Regions from separate parts of the Homo sapiens genome. Here region 1 is linked to region 2. The links come from fine-mapping of genetic effects on gene expression. A gene starts in region 2. The other region holds a variant in brackets. All regions are shown on one strand. Distances are from middle to middle. Region 1 overlaps MKX (mohawk homeobox). Region 2 holds the start of MKX (mohawk homeobox).

What was found. PIP is the estimated chance that this variant, and not a neighbour inherited with it, causes the effect.
Region 1: its variant is the best candidate, but not a certain one, in a credible set for the expression of MKX in prefrontal cortex (ROSMAP, PIP 0.64).

What each region holds. Positions count from the first base shown.
Region 1 is chr10:27,672,252-27,676,645 of GRCh38, forward strand. MKX (mohawk homeobox) reads right to left here. Exons shown (of 7, transcript NM_173576.3): 6 at 3,270-3,303; 7 at 623-3,164. The coding sequence ends at 2,978. Among named protein-coding and RNA genes, the nearest start is that of MKX-AS1, 70 kb to the right of the region's middle. The variant A/C (reference allele first, on the strand shown) is at 2,492.
Region 2 is chr10:27,743,986-27,748,379 of GRCh38, forward strand. It overlaps MKX (mohawk homeobox), which reads right to left and starts at 1,834. Exons shown (of 7, transcript NM_173576.3): 1 at 1,722-1,834. MKX-AS1 (MKX antisense RNA 1) reads left to right here and starts at 630. Exons shown (of 2, transcript NR_121652.1): 1 at 630-963. RefSeq lists an enhancer at 1,325-1,915.

The sequences.
Region 1 (4,394 bases), 72 kb before region 2:
CTACAGCTGTCCATTAAACTACCCATGTCTTATGTTCCATTTATTTTAAATATTTCTACTTTCTTGTGCATAAAGCCTGAATAGAGGAATTGTAACTATGCAATAATATGTTCCAGTTACCAAGCACCTATTATCTGACAGACACTGAGGTAGGCACTTTATGTATTGCATTTTATCTCAATCTTAGTGCAAACCCTACAAGGTATAGCTCCTTACTCCCACTTTGCAGATGAAGAAACTAGATAAGAATGACTAAGTAGTAAGGGACAGAGCTGAGATTCAAAGGTAGTTCTGTCTAGCTTCAAAGCCAAGGTTTTCTCTCCAGTGCAGAGCACACCACAAATAATGCTAATTGTATTAGTGAGGGAAAGAAGGTATTACCTGAAAATGTTCATTTTAAAGTTAGGTATTTTAATAGTCGGCATCACACTCCCTTTTCCTCAGTCTTTGAAAGCTGGATTGGTGGCCTAAGGTGATGAAATTCAAACCTAATACAAATGCAGCACTCCCATATCATATCCCTTAACAGTCTAAGGAGAATTGCTGAATATAATGGGCCCGTCTGTTCTACTGCTTCATCTACCTGGTCAGCTCTCAAAGGAAAACAAAATCCATACGATCATCGAGGTCTAGAAATTAACTTTTATTTTAAATCTGTCAAGAACTCCTGGCAGTTATTAATTTTATTAAAATGATTACATATGGCAAAACAAAGAATAGAGGTAATTCTATTTCTCTACAACATAAATTATGAGTTAGATTTTCAGCTGCCGGCTCAGCATTGTTCAAGATTCTTTTAAAGGACTGGGGGGATTTTAATATCCAGAAAATGTTAAAGCAGCAAAAGAAAAAATAAATTAAAAAGTCATTGCAATTGGAGATATTACCAAGGATGTGCTTACTATAAAGTCTTCTTGACATGTTAATTATAAAATCTTCCAACCTTTGGTATTAAAAAAAATCATGTGAATAGTTGTCCTATATTGCCTTGTCATCTATAATTTATAACATAGAAGAAATTTGCTGATTTTTTTAAAAAGATGGCAAACATGAATCATGACTCATTCAAATAAAATACAACCAGCATTCATTCATTTAACTGAAATATGTCAAAACAAAAACACTTTTATTAACATATTTAATACCAGAATAACTTATAATAGTATGAAAAAGAGTGAAGTATTTGTCTTTAGTTTTCATTGACATGCTCACATTTTGGCATTTTTGTATTGTTTTGCAAAGATTCCAAAGTTTTTATCAGAGATCTCTAACTATTTAAGGATGCAAACCAAAAGAACTCATACTTCATCTGATCATACAGTCATAACTTATATATTTTGCTTTGCGCTTACTGTTACTGCAAACAGCAATTTAGAAAACAAAGTAAAAATATATATATATACACAAAATATTTTTATATCAAATTATCTTCATTACACTAAATAAACCCAATCCCCAAATGTTATGTTACATGAAAAAGTGTCCTACAATTTAGATCAAGACTGATACTGTCCATCAACTAGAGCAGCCTTTGGTTTTAAAAGCATTTTGCAAAATAAAGAAAAATGTCACCACTGGCTGCACTATTGACCCTCATTCACACTGACAAAAATGCTTTCCAGTTTAAAAAAAAAATAGATTACATACCCAGAAAAAAAAAATCCCATCATAAAAAGTCAAACCCTTTTTACTTCTCTGTAGCACATACCCTCTGTTATATTTGGCATTTCCACTGCTTATTCAAGTTTCAGGTCTTCCCAAGCTGATTGGAATATTATTGTTTAGTTGAGAAAGATAGTCTTCTTTCTTGATATTGATTATTCTCACTCAATGGTAGACTAATTTAGAAACAAAATGTTTTCTTTCAATGCATGATTTCACTTCATTTTTACTTTAATGTCCAACTTGGCAAAATTCAAACTGTTCAATGTTTTGTTTTCCATATGTTTTAAATTTAAAAATCAATTTTATGTATGTATATGTATAGCCGCACAGAGATACATTTCTTTCATTCTGTTGTTCTCGCTGCAATACAAATTGTCCATCAGCAATTGTAATTTGAAACAAACCAAATAAAAGATTTTTAGTCATTCCATACGAACACAGTTTCCATCACAAAAAGACAGTGAGCTCTAATGCAAACAGGATTATGTTTTAAAACTACAGGTTTAGTTTTACACAGGAAAATTTTGAGTTATTTGTATAATAAAGTTTTTTTTTAAACTTCAGCAGAACTTGAGAAACAAATCCAGATTAATTCTAAAGGGCTTTGTGGTGCTTTCCAACAGTGCTTGAAAAAAAGTTTTCCTGGTCACCATGTGTTCAATGAAATTTTAAATTAGCTTGAAGGAATCACTTCTTAAATGTACAACGTTCTGTGGATCGCTGCACCTTGAATTTTGGAAGTTTGTAACATATCAAATATGCAGGCAAGATACATGCATAAAATTCTCACCGTCACTCTGAAAAGCACATTGAACAATTTTCAATA[A/C]TGTAGACGTTTTTTAAAAGGAAGATTTCATTTGGGCTGAACAGATATCCAAGTTTTAACATATGAATTATTGAATGTATTTCAAGGGCTTTCAGCGATTCTGGTTTCAGTCCTGGAATGATTAGGCCCGTCTGGAATGATGCACACAGGCTAATAAGCATATGGCGTTGGCATTTTGAGGCATAGCTTGTTCAACTATGCCCACGTTGGAGCTTATTGTCGGGAAGCAAGGCACTTACTGTAATGGTAATGCAGATGTTTTATGCATAGTTTGAGTAACATAAAATAAGTTAATATTTTTGATTAAAATGAGTTTTTTATAATTTATATGTCTTTTATAGAAGCAACTAAATGATATATTTGGGATAATTAAAAATAAGAAGAGGTTTGGGAGAGAGTCATTTTCATCCCTGCTTCGGCTCTTAGGATGAGGGTTGATGAAAACACCGGAAAGAACATCCATTGGATCTGAAAAGCAACAAGCTCTTAAAACTGCTGCACCAGCGGCACTTTGACAGTCTTTACTTCTGCTATATGGGACGACTTCTGGATGATGCAGCTGGTAGTTCCCTGCAGTTTGTCCTTTCCCTGTGCAAGATTTGTTAAGGCCATAGCTGCGTTGATCTCCTTCCAATACGTGTCATCCTTGCTTGGTCCTTTTCTGTTAGCTGCGCTGGAGTTAAGCAAAACAGAAAGTAAACGATCAAACTCACTGCAGTTTGCATTGAAAATGCCATCGCTGAAAAGCAGGAACGGCCAATGGGAACATTTTGCTCACCTTTCACCCTTATTGGATCCGTTTTCCAGAGTGTCTGTAAAGAAAAGCAAAAATTCAATTATTTTTATGTTTTTCCTTTCTTTTCTCATCTCAGGAGTTTCATCACTAATGACCAGAAGTAAAAGTTCTTCAGGAAATATGGTTGAAAATTAGTTCGCTTTTAATAAAGATAAAGCAGTTTATATTAAGATGCAAAAAAAATTGCAAAGGGGCAGAAGTAAGATGACAGTGGGTAGTAAAGAATAAAAGGTAGCTCTCATAGATACACAAAAATCTGAAGTTATTTACTCTGAGAAATTGGGCCTTTTGGATCAGGAGACAAACAGCATAAGGAAAAGAGTGCTGACTGTACCTGGGGCCAGGTTCTGGCCTTGCCCTACTACCCACTTGCAGTGTAACCTGGGGGCAGATTATGACCTCCCACAATGTCAGGGATTCAGTTCTCTAACTATAAAATCAGGGAGCTTTGGCTGGGCACAGTGGCTCATATCTGTAATCCCAGCACTTTGGGAGGCCAAGGCGGGGGATTGCTTGAGCCTAGGAATTCGAGACCAGCCTGCGCTACATAGTGAGACCTCATCTCTACTAAAAATAAAAATAAAAATAGCTGGGTATGGTGGGTGTTCACCTATATTCCCAGTTACTCAGGAGGCTGAGGTGGGAGGATTGCTTGAGCCCAGGGGGGTGAAGGTGCAGTAAGCAGTGATTGTGCCACTGCACTCCAGCCTGGGCAACAGAGCAAGACCCTGTCTCTAAGAAAATTAAAATAAAAAAGGGGGGGGTTCTAGAAAATCTTGGGGGTGCTTCTGGCTCAATGATTCTATAATTTCATGGTTATCAAATTTTCTTTTTTCTTTTTCTTTTTTTTTTTTTTTGAGATGGAGGCTTGCTCTGTTGCCCAGGCTGGAGTGCAGTGCTGTGATCTCGGCTCACTGCAACCTCCACCTCCCAGGTTCAAGCAATTCTTCTGCCTCAGGCTCCTAAGTAGCTGGGATTACAGGCACCCGCCACCAAGCCCGGCTAATTTTTGTATTTTTAGTAGAGACAGGGTTTCACCATGTTGATCAGGCTGATCTCGAACTCCTGACCTCGTGATCAGCCTGCCTCAGCCTCCTAAAGTGCTGG
Region 2 (4,394 bases):
ACAAGACCCCCCAGCTCATGAGTCCCAGGCCATACCGGGATTTGGGGGATTTTCGTGTTTTCTAGATCGTGGATGGTTTGGTTGAAACCCCCGCATCTTCTGTCCGCCAAGGTCCCCCGGGGTGAGGTTGGGTTCAAGGACAGGAAAAAGTTAAGTGGCGTCAGGACGAAAGCACCACTTCTCCCCCTTCTCTCCCAGAATCTTCCTATCATCCCCCAACGCGCCCCGGGAAGTGCATGGTCCTAAGGTCCAAGGCGCCAGGACCCAGGTCCCCAGAGCCCTCAATCAGTGCCATTCTCTTCCGCAGCGCGGGTGTCAGCCGCGAGCTCGTAGCCCCTCGACACCCGCCTCTCTCTGGGGTCTCCGGGGACCCTTTCAGAGGCTGTAAAGGTGTCAGAAGCCCAAGGCAGGAGGCAGCTTGGTCGGCGCACCTCCCGGGCCACTGCTGCCACTGTCGGGGAGAGCCAGCAGCTCACCTCTGGGGTCGCGGAGGCCCTGAGCCTCTGCCTGCCGCGCACCGGCGTCAGGAGCAAGTCCGCGCGGCCGCGGAGCCGCAGAGTTACAGCCCCAAGGCGCGCGGCGGACTTCGCCCGCCCCATCTCCTCGCCTCGCGCCTCGGGACAGCTCCCGTTTCCTCCGAGCGGCCTCAGCTTCGCTGCCAGCGCCCCCTTTGCCCGTCCAGCCGCGGCATGGGCTGCTACTCCACTAACACACGCGCGCGCGCATACACACACACACACACACACACACACACACACACCCTTTGCCTCGCCAAGCGCCCACACTCGCCAACGCCCCCGCCCCGCCCTTCGGCCACCGCAGCAGAGGCCACGCGTGACATTTAGGACCACGCGTGACCACCGCGATCAAACGACGGCTACGGTCTGTGTTCGTAGGGAAGTGAAGTCAGACCTCTGCTGGATGTCGTGTGTCCCCTAGGACTGCGTCCTCCCGCGCAGACAGGTACGTGCCTGGGGTGTGCACATAGCCTCGGTGATAAGTGTCAAAGAGAATTTTCGTGCTTGCAGCCCCTGTTCTACAGTCAAGACTCGCGTTGGTGTTTTCTTTTAAAATCATGCCCTTAGGGATGTGTGTTCATGCTGCTTTATTTGTACAAGACACCCTTCCCCGGCCCGGCCTTCTCCGAGCCACCCCAGCGCGTCCTCCTAGATGCGACGACGTGTTTTTCCTAGCGAAGTCATCACGAGGTTAGCCACCTCGGACACTTCCCCGGCAGCCCCAAGCCCACGCAGAGATCGCAGACACAGACACCCGGCGCGCTGTAGGTCTGCAGGCAGCAGGCTCAGAGGCAAGCGATGGCAAAGGTCCGAGCGCTGTCCTGTCGCAAGGGGTCCGGGGGCGTGTGAACCACACTTGCTGACCCTCCCAGGACTCCCGCGCGCGGCCACCCGCGCCTCTTCTCAAATCACTTACCCCGATTCACTCCAGACTGTGGCCGGGGAGGTCACTCCCTGCAGAAGTGTCCCCCTCCCCCAACGCCGGCGAATAATTTTAAAGCAAAGGAGGCGCGGCCAGGTGGGCTCCCAAGCTCCGCGCAGACCCTTGGGCCAGCCTTGGCCGCTACCCGAGCGCCTCTCCACCAGACCTTGGAGGGAAGTTGGGGGAAGGGCGGGAGAGCACCGGCGCCCAGGGCGCAGGGGCCAGAGCGAGCCTGGCGTTCCGCCGCAGCCGGCTGAGACTCGGCGACGCGGGGGCTGTACCTGTGGCTGCGGGGCCGACGGCCGGCTGCAGGGCGGCTGGCTCTCCCGCCTCGAGACTAGGCGCACTCCCATCCCCGCCGCATGTTCTCCACGCGGGCTCCAGCGCGCTCACCACCGCCACCGCCGTCGTCTCGGCTTTATTTACCCAGCCCGGCGCGCGCCGCCCGGGAACAGGAATAGCGAGGCCTTCTCATGTTTCCTGACTGCCGGTCCCAGCCGGCGAACATCCTGCGGGCGCGGTATCCACGTTCCCGGGCGGGTGGAGAGGAAGCGTCCGCGCCCGCCCGGCCGCGGGGGCTGCTGTTAACCCCTAGCAGAGGAGCCGCTGCCGGGGAGCCCCGGGCCCGCCGAGTCCTCCGGAGCCGGGCGCGGCTCCCAGATCCGCCGGCCTTGCAGTCGTGGAGCAGACGGGGCTTTTCCCTTCGCACTTTAGGAGAGAAATTGGAGAAGCTGCCGGGAGCGCTCGGCTCCGGCTCCAGAAGCTGAGAGGCTGCGGTGCAAATCCCGTGTCTTAGCTGGCCCGATTGCCGGAAATTTCACTGCGCGTGGCTAGGCGGGAGAGGCCACTGTGACGCGCCCTGTATTTTCCTCTCGATTAGCTGGAGGGAAGTTAGAGCTCCGTTTTGCACCTACAGCCCTGGAGCGTATTGCGGGAAGTGCTAGTGCCCAGGAGCCTCTTTTCTGATGTCACTGGGCTTCTGGGGTCCTAGTTGTCTCAGTCAAAGCCAGGCACACATTCACCTCCGGGGCAAGGGCTGGTGAGGCTGCCCTCGCCGCTGGGTATAGGGATGGGGGAAAGCAAGGATGGGATGAGTTCAGCCCAGGTGGCCAACCCGCGGTGGCCCAAGTGCAGAAGAGGAAGCGCGCCCAAAGCCAAGGATCTGCACGCAGCAAAGGAGATGGAACTTAGAAGAATCACAAGCTGGGACACAGGGCAAAGAGAGAGAATGGCTACCAGATTCTCTGATTGATGATACTTTGCTTCCTAACATTACCGCAAATATAAGTAGCGAAAGCGGCGGTTTAGGTGCAACTGCAAGCTCAGAGCTTCTGGCAGCCCAGAAGATCCCCAAGGTGCCAACACGAAGCTGCCTGCGCTCTCGCCGAAGGCCCTGTGGTCCTAGCGAACTTTCGCCCTTTTTAAAGAACAAACTTAGATTTCCCCCCACCAAGCTTAAAGAAATAGCGCCATTTGTCCTTTTCCCCTCTAAATGCGGCTGGCCAGAGCCGGGGCAGTGGCCCACCTTAGCATCTTCTTCGTGTGTGTGTGTGTGTGTGCGCGTGTGTGTGTGTGTGTTTGTGTGTTGGGGGGGTCGCTAGAAGTGCTTAAAATATATACCAAAACTATTATTTTAAAGACTAATCACACCCTCAAATTTCATATGTGTCACCTCCCAAATTACGCGATAGCAAACCGTTGTGCAGGGGTACAATGTAAACCATAAAGGAAGGCCGGTTTACATTTTTGCGCACCAGGAAGATACAAAGTATCATTGGAGCACGTTCTGATGTCCTCGGTTCTCTTTTGTTATATAACTTGCTGTTGCAGCGCTTGCATCTTGTCTTTGGCGCTGCCCTTGTGGTGTGAGTTCAGTACAGGCTTCTGGTCTACAGACCTCGCTGTAGGAGCTTAAAGACAGGGGTAAATCCTAAGGTTTCAGCCATCAATTTTCAGCTAACAAATTTCACCACAGAAGCAGATCTAATTGATAATTCATAGGACAAAAGAGCCACCTTCTCTTTTATGGTCTCTATCAGTGGTGTTAGTCACCGGGAATTGTAATGAAATTAGCTCTAACATACCCCTGAAACATTTTTTGGTCAGCTGTCCCAGGTAAAGCAATAGGCATCATACAGTTACTTGCAATTTCCCAGTATTCTACTAACTTTTTGAGCTATATGCTATAGTACATGTTAGTATAGGACAAATGAATTTTGTTGTTTTAGTACTTAACTATATTTACTCAATTTAAAAATGCATTTAGAGCGCTTTTAAGATATACTTACATGTAATATTTGTTTTCTTAAAGTCTGAAATGAAATATACAGCAAAAATCTTAATGCAAAAATACTTTTCATTTGATATAGGAATAAAATACATTTGAGTAAGCCTCAACTCACTAAAAAATTAACATATGGTAATTCCCTTAGACTATGATTTAATAATTAAAATCCATTTAAAAATGAAAGAAGAGTGAAGGATCCATTCTAGAAGTGAAATGGTGTGAAATATCCCTCTGTAATATACCAATGGGCATTTATTTTATTTTTGCAAGTTTTATCCTCTATGCAAAAGGGAAGTGTTGTCTTCATTTTAATCCACACTTCAAATACATTCATTATTAAATTACACCTATTTCTAAAATAAATGTTACTCAGCCTCTTGTGCTATATCCAATGTCAGTATATGAAATGCTATATATAATCCTCAGAAGTAAAGCTTCCAGTTTCAGAAAGTTTTAGAAGATTTAAGAAAGCATATGTAGTTTGTGGAAGATGGCCTTATGCAGGGGGAAAAAAAACCCAAAACACCCAACAACTTAGACCAGAAGTCAGAAGACTTGAGCCCTAATCTTAATTCTGGTTAATTTGATGATGGTTTAGCCTGAATTTAGTAAAGTGTAAAATGACGGTAATAAGTTTTCCACAAACTGCCTTACACTATTATGAAGG